Linked DNA regions of Homo sapiens: regions 1 and 3 are each linked to region 2. Evidence: fine-mapped expression QTL. A gene starts in region 2. Each other region holds a variant in brackets. All regions are shown on one strand. Distances are from middle to middle. Region 1 overlaps LOC105378408 (a long non-coding RNA gene). Region 2 holds the start of WAPL-DT (WAPL divergent transcript). Region 3 has its middle 62 kb from the start of GRID1.

What was found. PIP is the estimated chance that this variant, and not a neighbour inherited with it, causes the effect.
Region 1: its variant is the best candidate, but not a certain one, in a credible set for the expression of WAPL-DT in fibroblasts (GTEx, PIP 0.90).
Region 3: its variant is the best candidate, but not a certain one, in a credible set for the expression of WAPL-DT in unexposed skin (GTEx, PIP 0.82).

What each region holds. Positions count from the first base shown.
Region 1 is chr10:86,541,867-86,546,108 of GRCh38, reverse strand. All of the region lies in intron 3 of LOC105378408 (a long non-coding RNA gene), which reads right to left. It overlaps LOC105378407 (a long non-coding RNA gene), which reads left to right. Exons shown (of 4, transcript XR_946161.1): 4 at 53-82. Among named protein-coding and RNA genes, the nearest start is that of WAPL-DT, 22 kb to the right of the region's middle. The variant C/G (reference allele first, on the strand shown) is at 1,871.
Region 2 is chr10:86,519,364-86,523,605 of GRCh38, reverse strand. It overlaps WAPL-DT (WAPL divergent transcript), which reads right to left and starts at 1,659. Exons shown (of 2, transcript NR_186498.1): 1 at 1,197-1,659; 2 at 1-1,097. It overlaps WAPL (WAPL cohesin release factor), which reads left to right and starts at 1,814. Exons shown (of 19, transcript NM_015045.5): 1 at 1,814-2,241. RefSeq lists silencers at 1,201-1,760, 1,901-2,320.
Region 3 is chr10:86,426,614-86,430,855 of GRCh38, reverse strand. No RefSeq gene overlaps it. Among named protein-coding and RNA genes, the nearest start is that of GRID1, 62 kb to the right of the region's middle. The variant A/T (reference allele first, on the strand shown) is at 1,897.

The DNA.
Region 1 (4,242 bases), 23 kb before region 2:
GGTTATTTGTGTCACAACCCATTCTATTCATGTTTGATCATTGTCAATATAGGCTGGACACAGTGGCTCAAGCCTGTAATCCCAGCACTTTGGGAGGCCGCAGCGGGAGGATCACCTGAGGTCAGAAGTTCAAGACCAGCCTGGCCAACATGGTGAAACCCTGCCTCTACCAAAAATACAAAAATTAGCTGGACATGGTGGCACGTTCCTGTAGTCCCAGCTACTCGGGAGTCTGAGGCAGGATAATCACTTGAACACGGGAGATGCAGGTTGCAGTGAAATGAGATCATGCCATTGCACTGCAGCCTGGATGACAAGAGTGAAACTCCATATCAAAATAAATAAATAAATAATTGTCAATATATTTATGTCTCATTTCCCTAACTGTATTATTTTGTTCACTATTCCATATATATTTTGGAGTAGGAATCACGCATCAGGTGCTGTGCAGGGTCCTGAGGGTCACAGAAAGAATAAAGCCAGATTATCCCGCCCTTGAGTAACTCAATCTAGGTAGCACTTGCCTGGATGTGTATTGTATAGTGAGCTAGATGAATATTGTTTATATAGTGAGCAGTGTTTAAATAAAGTTAGAATTAGTTGGCAACATTTAAAAATCAGGAGACTTCACATGAAAAGCTAGATTAATCATTTCTTTTGAAATATGGAAAGATCTGGCAGTTCTGGGTCCTCTCTGTCCCACGGCTATTGTCAGCTGGAGGGGAGCATCTGTCATCCCTTTTGGCAGGGCCTGAGTTTGCCCAGTTCCCTGCAGGCCCCACCACCCCCTCCACCACAGAGAGAGAAGGCACACCTTGGCACAGGACCAGTTCCTGCCCTTCCAAACCACATGGGTGGCTTTGCCTTTACATGGTTGTTGCAAACAAAACAAACAGTCCTAACTGCCAGTCATTTAAAAAGGAATAGTATCCCTCGCCGGATTATTAGGGGGGCATGGTGGCAGGCGCCTGTAATGCCAGCTGCTCAGGAGGCTGAAGCATAAGAATCGCTTGAACCCAGGAGGCAGAGATTGCAGTGAGCCGAGATCGCACCACTGCACTCCAGCCTGGGCAACACAGTGAGACCCTGTCTGGAAAAAAAAAATAGGATAATATTCCTCTTTCTATGTCAGGAATACTGGATGCACTAACAGAGGTGGATGCTCTGAGGCTCTGAGGCTTCAGTCTGCAGGACCTCCCCTCAGCCCATCTTCTTGCCAGGTACTAGGTAGTTCATATTAAAACAGATGTAGCTTTTAGGCTAAGTGTGGTGGCTCATGCCTGTAATCCCAACATTTTGGGAGGCTGAGGTGAGTGGATTGCTTGAGTCCAGGAGTTTGATACCAGCCTGGGCAACATAGTGAGACCCCTGTCTCTACAGAAAACAGAAAAAAATAGCCAGCCAGCCTGGGCAACACAGTGAGACCCATCTCTACAAAAAAAAAATATAAAAATTAGCTGGGCATGGTGGTGCATGCCTGTAGTCCCTGCTACTTGGGAGGCTGAGGCAGGAGGATTGATTGAGCCCAGGTGGTGAAGGCTACAGTAAGCCATGATTGTGCAACTACACTCCAGCCTAGGTGACAGAGCAAGACTCCGTCTCAAAAATCAAACCCAAACAAACAGATGTAATTTTAAAAATAACAGACTTAATTAGCTGGGTGTGGTGGCACGTGCCTGTAGTCCCAGCTACTCGGGAGGTTGAGGCAAGAGAATCGCTTGAATCTGGGAGGCGGAGGTTGCAGTGAGCAGAGATTGTGCCACTGCACTCCAGCCTGGGTGACAGAGTGAGACTCTGTCTCTAAATAAATAAATAAATAAACCGACTTTATTTTTAGAACAGTTTTAGATTTACAGAAAAATTGGCCGAG[C/G]ATGGTGACTCATGCCTGTAATCCCAGCACTCTGGGAGGCTGAGGCCGGCAGATTACTTGAGGTCAGGAGTTTGAGACCAGCCAGGCCAACATGGTAAAACCTCGTTTTTACTAAAAATACAAAAACTAGCCGGGCATGGTGGTGGGCGCCTGTAATCCCAGATACTCGGGAGGTGGAGGTTGCAGTGAGCTGGGAGCCGAGCTCACGCCACTGCACTCCAGGCTCGGGGACAGAGCGAAACTCCATCTAAAAAAAAAAAAAAAAGATTTGCAGAAAAATTGACAAAATAGTACAGAAAATTTCCATATACCTTACATCCAGTTTCCCCTATTATTAATATCTTACCTTAGTATGGTATACTTGTTAAAATTAATGAACAAATATGGATATAATATCACTAACTAAAGTCCATACTTTATTCAGCTTTTCTTGATTTTTACCTAATAGCCTTCTCATGTGGCAGGAGCCCATCCAGGATACCATATTACATTTACTTGTCACGTCCCCTTAAGCTGCTCTTAGCTGGGACAGTTTGTCTGACTTTCCTTATTTTAATGACTGTGACAATTTTTTTTTTGAGACAGGGTCTGGCTGTCACCCAGCCTGGTGTACAGTGGACTGATCTTGGCCCATTGCAACCTCCACCTCCCGGGCTCAAGCCATCCTCCCACCTCAGCCTCTTGAGTAGCTGGGACTACATGTGTGCACCACTACACTGGCTAATTTTTTTGTATTTTTTGTAGAGATGGGGTTTCACCATGTTCCCCACGCTGGTCTTGAACTTCTGAGCTCAAACTATCCACCTGCCTCAGCCTCCCACAGTGCTGGAATGACAGGTATGACCCCACTGCACCTGGCCGACCATGACAATTTTAAGGGGTACTTTAAGTTCAGTGTTTTTGTTGTTGTTGTTGTGTTGTGTTTTGTTTTTTTTCTTTTTTGAGACAGAGTCTTGCTCTGTCACCCAGGCTGGAGTGCAGTGGCGTGATCTCAGCTCACTACAACCTCCACCTCCCAGGTTCAAGTGATTCTCCTGTCTCAGCCTTCTGAGTAGCTGGGATTACAGGCGTCCACCACCATGCACAGCTAATTTTTTTGTATTTTTAGTAGAGACAGGGTTTCACCAGTTGGCCAGGCTGGTTTTGAACTCCTGACCTCAAGTGATCTGCCCACCTTGGCCTCCCAAAGTGCTAGGATTACAGGCGTGAGCCACTGCACCCGGCCAAGTTCAGTGTTTTGTAGTATATCTAATAGAATTTATTTGGTGTTTTTCTCATGGTTGAACTAAGGGTGTGGATTTTTAGGAGTAGAACCACAAGGTAAAGTCCCATTTTCTTCTTCTTTTTTTTTAGATGGAGTCTTGCTCTGTCGCCCAGGGTGGAGTACAGTGGCGTGATCTCGACTCACTGCAACTTCTGCCTCCCAGGTTCAAGCAATTCTTCCTGCCTCAACCTCCCGAGTAGCTGGGACTACAGGCATGCACCACCACACTCAGCTAACTTATGTATTTTTAGTAGACACGGGGTTTCACCATATTGGCCAGGCTGGTCTTGAACTCCTGACCTCGTGATCCACCAGCCTGAGTCTCCCAAAGAGCTGGGATTACAGGTGTGAGCCCCCATGCCCGACCAAAGTCCCAAAGTCCCATTTTCATCACATCATATCAAGGGTACATACTCTCCCCTTTTTTTTTTTTTTTTTTTTTTTTTTTTGAGACGGAGTCTCTCTGTTGCCCAGGCTGCAGTGCAGTGGTGCGATCTTGATCTCTCTCGGCTCACTGCTACCTCCACCTCCCAGGCTCAAGTGATTCTCCTGCCTCAGCCTCCATAGTAGCTGGCATTACAGGTGCCCACTGCCACCCCCGGCTAATTTTTGTATTTTAGGGTATATACTCTCAAAATGACCTATCAATATGACATATCAATGACTTGATCACTTGGCTGAGGTAGTATTTGTCAGATTTCTCCATGCAGTTTTTTTTTCTCTTTTTCTATATGTACTCTTTGGAAGGAAGTCACTAAGTACAACCTACACTGAAGGAGTGTGGAGTAATGTTCCCTTCCCTGAGGGCACAGTAGCCATATTAATTATTTGGTATTCTTCTGCATGGGAGATTTATCTGTAATTCTCCTTTTATCTATTCAATCATGTATTTATATTGGTACAGACTCACAGATATTTATTTTATACTTTGGTTCATAATCCAATATTATTGATTTTGTTTCTTAAATTGTTCCTGCTTTGGCCACTGGGAGCTCTTTTCCATTTGTCTTTGTTTTTGCTGTTTTTGAGACAGGGTCTCATTCTGTTGCCAAGGCTGGAGTGCAGGGGTGCGATCTTGGTTCATTGCAGCCTCAACCTCCTGGACTGA
Region 2 (4,242 bases):
GTGTCCAGCACTAGAGAGGCCAGGCATAATAGACATATCCTTTGGTCTTGGGAGGATCACGACACCCTCCTACAGGAAGATCTTGCAATTGTTTCCTCACCTCTTCTGGTTTTTTGATCTTACCTTTTGCCTCTGATGATAATTACCCTTTAATTACCACCCACCACCTTGTCATCTAAATAATTATAGTAAGTGCAGCCTGCACCTCTGCCAGAAGATCTTTAAACAAAATGATAAAAACAAGTTCCTAAACTGCCAATTAAAAAAAGAGACAAAACTGACCCAAATAAAACAGTCATGTGCATCCCACCCACAGTGGAAGACATGGACTTGTTTTTCATATAAACTACAGAAGAAGTTGATTTATTTTGAAACAAGAAAAAGTACTGATTCAGTATTTAGGAAATTGTAAATGTCAGAATATAAATTCTGCAGTCAGGTAGGCAAAACAATCCAACCACACTAAAATCCACCTTAAATTCCTCTTGGGAAGAGCTGCAGGGTCTCTGAACTATTTTTCCTTTATTTGGAGTTTCCCCGATTATACCGGAGGGAGCTGGATAACTTCTGGGTGCATTAAAAGCAAATTATCCATTTGTGGGAGAAGGGCGGGCTTCTCACTGAAAGCAATTAGTAGTTTTCTAATTTCCCAGGTGGGTCTCCATTAACCGCCTAACAAACACCAAGGCTGTCGGAGTCCGACGAATCATGCACCTCTCTTAGGGGGAACTGGTTGCGCTACTCTTTAGAACGCTGTTTTCCCATGGTAGCCTTAAAAAAAACTTACCAATTTTCTGAATTAGGTAACACATTGAATGGGAAAAACCTAAGATAGCACAAAAAGGCGTACAGCGAAAAATTAAGACTCCTTCCTCCCGTCATCCGCCACCTCACTGTCCTCCCTAGAGGCAATCGCTGGTTCACTTCTTTAAACTTTTTATTATGGAAAATTTCAGATACACAAGTAAAGAGACTGTATGATGAGCACATATGCTCGCATCACGCAGCTTCAACGATGAAAAACGTTCTGCCAGCTTGTTTTATTCCTCTCCCCCAGTTTTCATAGGCGTATTTTACAGTCCTGACACCAGATCACTCTGTCAACACATCAGTAGGTCTTAAAAAAAAAAAAACAAAAAACCATAACCACATTACCGTTACCACACCCAACAAAGTTAATGATAATTGCTCAATACCATCCAATATTCTCGGGGCCACTTTCAATCGGTGAGGGGCAGACGGACTTAGAGGAAGGACTGCAGGGCTGGAGGGGCGCGAAAAAGCGAGGGGCGACGCTGCTCGTGGCCTCGGGTGTCCGGCGCCTCGCGGTCCCCGCCATCGTCACCTACGCCGGGCCAGGACCGACCAGGCCAGGTCGAGGGCGGCTCTTGACCACGCGCCCCCTGCCTCCCAGCTCCCGGGCGGCGGCCTCCGCAGGCCCGGCACAGCTGCACAGCCCGCGGTCCCCAGGCACCGGCGGGTCCCTGGAGGGGAAGCGATTGATACAGCTGCCTGCACTGCGCCACCCGCCCGGCTGCCCATCTCCGTGGCACCTGCGTCTCCCGGCTGGGCCGGGAGCTAGAAGTGGCTGCCGAGACCGGGAGGGCCCGGCCAGTCGCCCGCTCCCGCTCCCGCGCCTGGTCCTCGGCCCGCGACCTCGCGGACCTGGACTACAACTCCCGTCGGGCTCCGCGGCCGGGCCAATGGCGGGCGCCGGAGCATGCGGGGCGCAGCGCCTGCGCGGCGGTTTGAGTAAGCGGCTGCGCGATTGGCTGCGGGGTCGGGCGGCCGCGCGGGGACTGTGGGAAGCGGAGTGACGGAGCGAGCGGCTGTTGGAGGAAGGAGGTGGGGGCCGGGAGCGCAAATGGCGTTGAGATGGTTCAGGGCCCTGTTCAAACTCCAGCACTGACCATTCACCGGCGGAAGCGGCGGCGCAGGAGGCGGCGGCGGCCCAGCGGGGGCACACAGCAGGCTCTGTTACCAGCTCCAGCAGTGGCGGCCAGCGAGAGCTAGGCCTGGGCCCGGCCGGCGGCGCTCGAGGCGGGGAGGGAAGTTGCGGGGCCGCCGCTCCTGCCCCCCCAACCGGGCTTCCTATTTACCGAAAGCAGAGTCCCTCGCCTCTCTCGGCTCTCACCTGCCGGCCCTGCTCTCCCGCGCGAGGGTTCCGCGCCCGCCCGCGGGCCGTAGGGAGCGGGAGAGGCGGAGGCGGCCCGTGGCCAAAGCACCCGCCAGGCTCCGAGGGTAAGTGAGGTGTCGGGCGGCCGCCTAGGCCGGGAGGGAGCCGGGAGGGTGGGGGAGGCAGAGGCTGGGAGCGGGCGGTGGAAGTCTCACTGCCTCGCCCACCGGGCCGCTGAGGAAGTTGGGCAGGGGAATGACCTGAGGAACTCTTTTTTTCCCCTTTTATTTTCCTTTTTCGGAGTTCTTTTTCGGGCGACTGCTGATTGACTTAGCTCCCCAAACCCAGTCAAGTGTGTTGATTTCAGCCCCGAGTCCTTTCCCGTGGTTTCATCCGCCTCTGGCCGCCACTGGGGCCTTGCACTGCCTTAAGGATTCGGTGGCAGAGGCTTCCGGGGCGTCGAAAGTGACCTCCCTTTCCTGGGCGGCGCGGGTTGGGAGGAGAAAAGTTGCATTGAGTGTCTAGTCCGAGGGGTCCATCGCGCCCACTGCCCGTGGCGCCCCGGCTGTCCCCAGGTGAGGATTTCTGGTTAGTCAGGTTCGTCCCGTCCGCTTTCCATCTTTAATGGAAGCCCTTAAAGCCTTTGGGGATCGGGAAGACGCTAGATTAGGGTGGGAGTGAAGTATAAAGGCTTTTTGCTTTTTTTTTTTTTTTTTTTTTTTTAAATCACAGCGCACTTCTCTCAAAATTCGACCTGATTTTGGGCTAGGGCAAAAGCCGAACGACCGAAAAGACTTAGTCGTCAATCATTCTTTCCTTTTTAGTTAGGACAGTCTTTGGAGTTTAAAGGTTGAGCAAGATTGTGTACTTGAAACACTTAAAATTTAACTTCAAGGACGTCTGCACACTTATTTTGGAATCTGTAGTGCTTTACGCTTAGATAATGCCATTGCAAAGACATTTTATTGTGGGAAACGATAAAGGCAATCAGGAGGAGATATTATATAATGAACTTCTCTGTACCCATCGCTTGGATTTAGCAGTGACTATTAAACAAATTTATTTCATCTATACACTTCTCATTCCTTAATGTTGGAAAATCGCTGACGTTATTTCATCAGTATTTCACTATGTATTTGTAAAAGACGTGGTCTTTTGGCACAAAATTATTATTATCATTATTATTATTATTTTGAGACGGAGTTTCGCCCTTGTTGCCCAGGCTGGAGTGCAGTGGCGCGATCTCAGCTCACCGCAACCTCCGCCTCCCAGGTTCAATTGATTCTCCTGCCCCAGCCTCCGGAGTAGCTGGGATTACAGGCATGCGCCACCACGCCCGGCTAATTTTCTATTTTTAGTAGAAACGTGGTTTCTCCATGTTGGTCAGGCTGGTCTCGAACTCCTGGCCTCAGGTGATCTGCCCGTCTTGGCTTCCCAGAGTGCTGGAATTACAGGCGTGACCTGCCGCCCCCAGCCAGCACAAAATTATTTTTTATCACATAAAATAATTAAGTCCTTAGTGTCAGGTATTCATCTGAAGACTTCAAACTTTCAACAGTGAATGCTTTGTGGTTATAGAACCATTTTAACAGTTTTTCTGATGTTGGCATAAAGGAACTCAAGTCTAGATTTTTGGTTTGGCCTTTGGTTAGTATTTTTAGATGATTAGCACATAAGTGAATCCAAAACATTCCATCTTTGTTGGTGTGTATGTGTACGTACACTTACAGACCTGCAGGATCTCAGCTTTACATTCTTGAAGGAACAGAGAATCGATTTTTATTTTGTTGTCCGTGGTAGTTGCCCAGTATCCTGTTTTGTTTAGGCTGTACTTAACAAGAAAGACAGTAAGACTTGTTAGTGTTAGAGCTGCAGTGGAAGATGAAATACATCTCCTTCAGGAACACTGTTTTCTCTTAACGCAGATATGTATGATGACTAAATTATTACCTTGTCAAATTAAAATTGGGTTCTCACCAAACATGGGGGGGGGTCTACTACTGAATTTATATAAAACTCAGACAGTGACTCATTATAAATGGTAAGAATTTAAGTTAATCAAGGGAAAACAAGTGTAGATCAAAACATATTCAAAAGTATAGGTCAAATATAATTTCAATTCTTGT
Region 3 (4,242 bases), 93 kb after region 2:
CACAATGGTCAAGACCATGTATTCGCATGAGGACAAGATCAATACAATGAAGGCAGAGCCTAGAAATAGGTCAACAGATACACGGTCAACTGATTTTTGACAGAGGCACCAGAGCAATTTAATGTAGAAATTAAAATATTTTTAACAAATGGTTATGAAACAAGTGAATACCCATATTTAAAAAAAAAATCTTGACCCTTACCTTATGCTAAACATAAAAATTAATTCCATATGGATCATAGATCTCAATGTAAAAGCTAAAACTATAAAGCTACTACAAAAAGAAAGAACGAGGCCAGGCGTGGTGGCTCAGGCCTGTAATCCCAGCACTTTGGGAGGCTGAGGCAGGCAGATTGCCTGAGCTCAGGTGTTCGAGACCAGCCTGGGCAACATGATGAAACCCCGTCTCTACTAAAACACAAAAAATTAGCTGAGCGTGACAGCCTGTGCCTGTAGTCCCAGCTACTTGGGAGGCTAAGGTGGAAGGATCACCTGAGCCCAGGAGATGGAGGCTGCAGTGAGTGGAGATCATGCCACTGTACTCCAGCCTGGGAGATAGAGCCAGACCTCGTCTCAAAAATAAAATAAAAATTGGCCAGGCGTGGTGGCTCATGCCTGTAATCCCAGCACTTTGGGAGGCTGAGGCAGGTGGATCACGAGGTCAGGAGTTCAAGGACCAGCCTGACCAACATGGTGAAACCCCATCTCTACTAAAAATACAAAAATTCTTCGGGCGTGATGGCAGATGCCTGTAATCCCAGCTACTTAGGAAGCTGAGGCAGGAGAATCACTGGAACCCCGGAGGCAGAGGTTGCAGTGAGCCGAGATCGTGCCATTGCACTCCAGGCTGGGTGACAGAGGGAGACTCCCATCTCAAAAATAAATAAATAAATAAAATAAAAAGTGGCCAAGTGTGGTGGCTCATGCCTGTAATCCTAGAACTTTGGGAGGCCGAGGCAGGTGGATCACGAGGTCAGGAGATTGAGATCATCCCGGCCAACATGGTGAAACCCCGTTTCTACTAAAAATACAAAAATTAGCTGGGTGTGGTGGCATGCACCTGTAATCCCAGCTACTGGGGAGGCTGAGACAGGAGAATTGCTTGAACCCGGGAGGCAGAGGTTGCAGTGAGCAGAGATCTTGCCACTGCACTCCAGCCTGGAGACAGAGTGAGACTCCATCTCAAAAAAAAAAAAAAAAAAAAAAGATAAAAAAACCCATAAATTACAATGAGATGCTATTGTGTATTCAGTAGAATGGCCAGTTCAAAAGATGACAGCACCAAATGGTGGCACATCAACAACTGGAACTTTTTTTTAATGCTGTTGGGAATGTAAAATCATAACACCACTTTGGACGAGTTTTGTCAATTCCTTGTGAGAATAAAGTTATGCCTGTCTGGGCTGAGTGCACTGGCTCATGCCTGCAATCCCAGCACTTTGGGAGGCCGTGGCAGGAGGATCACTTGAGGGCAAGAGTTCAAAACCAGCCTGGGTAATGTGGTGAGACCTCATCTTTGCCAATGAATAGATAGATAGATAGATAGATAGATAGATTGATAGATAGATAGATAGATAAAAGCTGGGCATAGTGGCACATGCCTGTAGTCCCATCTGAGGCAGGAGGATTGCTTGAGCCCAGGAGGTTGAAGCTACAATAAGCCATGATTGTACCACTGCACTCCAGCCTGGGCCACAGCTAAAATATATATATATATATATTTTATATTTTATATATATAATATATATTATATTTTATATATTTATATATAATATATATTATATTTTATATATTTATATATAAAATATATATAATATATATTATATATATATTTATCTGTTCTTCAACCTAACAATTTCACTTTATCCAGAAGAAATGAAAATATTCAACAGAAAA[A/T]GTTGTGGAAAATGTTCACAGTCATTTTATCAACAAATAGCCAAACACTGGAAACAACTCAAATGTCCGTCCGCAGACAATAAACAAATTGATAGATTTATGCAATAATATACTACTTAGTAATAAAGAGGAACGAATTACTTTTTAAATCAACAACATGAAGAAATTTCACATTCATAACGCTCAGTGGAAGAAGCTGAATTTTCAAAATACATATAATACAGCCATGTGCAGTGGCTCACACCTGTAATCCCAGTGCTTTGGGAGGCCAAGGTGGGAGGATCGCTTGAGACCACGAGTTTGAGACCTATAATATGCATCAATTTATACAAAATTGTAGAACAGGCAATGTTATCTAAGGTGAAAACATTCAGAACAATTTATTTAAAAGACAGTAATAAGCAGTTAAATGAAAACCTCTATATGCTTAGAAATGTAAAAAACACAACCTGATAACTCATGGGTTAAATCAATTATAATTTATTTTTATTTTTATTTTTTTTTTTTGAGACGGAGTCTTGCTCAGTCACCCAGGCTGGAGAGCGGTGGTATGATCTTGGCTCACTGCAACCTCCAACTCCTGGGTTCAAGTGATTCTCCTGCCTCACCCTCCCGAGTAGCTGGGATTACAGGTGCATGCCATCATGCCCAGTTAATTTTTGTATTGTTAGTAGAGACAGGGTTTCACAGGTTGGCCAGGCTGGTCTCAAACTCCTGACCTCAAATGATCCACCCGCCTCAGCCTCCCAAAGTGCTGGGATTACTGGCGTGAGCCACCGCACCTGGCCATAATTTTTTTTTTTTTTTTTTAAATTAGAACTAGGCTGGTGACAGTGGGTCACACCTGTAATCTCAGCACTTTTAGGAGGCTGAGGCGGGTGGATCACCTCAGCCCAGGAGTTCGAGACCATCCCGGGGAACATGGCAAAACCCCATCTCTATGAAAAATACAAAATTAGCCAAGTGTGGTGGCACGCGCCTGTAATCCCAGCTACTTGATAGGCTGAGCGGGGAGGATCACTTGAACCCAGGGGTCGAAGATTGCAGTGAGCCCTGATTGAGCCACTGCACTCCAGCCTAGGTGAAAGAGTGAGACCCTGTCTCAAAAAAATAAAAATTTTAATTTAAAAAATAAATTAGAACTGGATGACAATGAAAATAAAATATATCAAAAGTCATGGTGCAGGGCACGGTGGCTCACGCCTGTAATCCCAGCACTTTGGGAGGCTGAGGCGGGCAGATCACTTGAGGTCAGGAGTTCGAGACCAGCCTGGTCAACACGGTGAAACCCTGTCTCTACTAAAAATACAAAATTAGCCGGGCGTGGTGGCACATGCCTGTAATCCCAGCTACTTGGGAGGCTGAGGCAGGAGAATCGCTTGAACCCCGGAGGCAGAGGTTGCAGTGAGCCAAGATCGTGCCATTGCACTTCAGTTTGGGCAACAAGAACAAAACTCCGTTTCAAAAAACAAAAAAAAAAGTTACGGGATACAGCAAAATTTTTATCTTTAAATGCTTATATTTGAAAGACAGAATGACTAAAATTGTAAAGTACATATTATTCATCTTAATGACAGAGTAAGAGCAATAGAATAAACTCTTAATAAGTAGAAGGAAGAAGATAATGGCAAATTTTTTAAAATTGGTGAAAAATGGATTCTTTGAAAAGTCTAAATTTTGAGTACACTCACCAAGAAGGAGGGAATAAAATACAAATTACAAAAGTAAGTATAAAAATCAATACATGTGGGCCAGGCGTGGTGGCTCACGCCTGTAATCCCAGCACTTTGGGAGGCTGAGGCGGGCAGATCACAAGCTTGGGAGTTCGAGACCAGCCTGGCTAACATGGTGAAACCCTGTTTCTACTAAAACTACAAAAAATTAGCCAGGCGTGGTGGTGCATGCCTGTAATCCCAGCTACTTGGGAGGCTGAGGCAGGAGAATTGCTTGAACCCAGGAGGCAGAGGTTGCAGTGAGCCGAGATTGCCCCATTGCTCTCCAGCTTGGGCAACAAGAGCGAAACTCCATTTCAAAAGAAAAAAAAATCAATACATGCTATCCTGTATGAAATAAATAAATATTAAAAAGACAATATATGAGTACAGAAACACTAGAGATTAAAAAAGTTTTAACTAACTACTCTGAATAAATGCATGCTAATGAATTTATGACTTAAATGAAGTGGGCAAATTCCTAGAATAATATAGCAAAAAAGAAAAACCTGGCCAGATGTGGTGGCTCATGCCTGTAATACCAGCACTTTGGGAGGCTGAGGTTGGTGAATCACATGAGATCAGGAGTTCGAGACGAGTCTGGGCAACGTGGTGAAACTCTGTCTCTACTAAA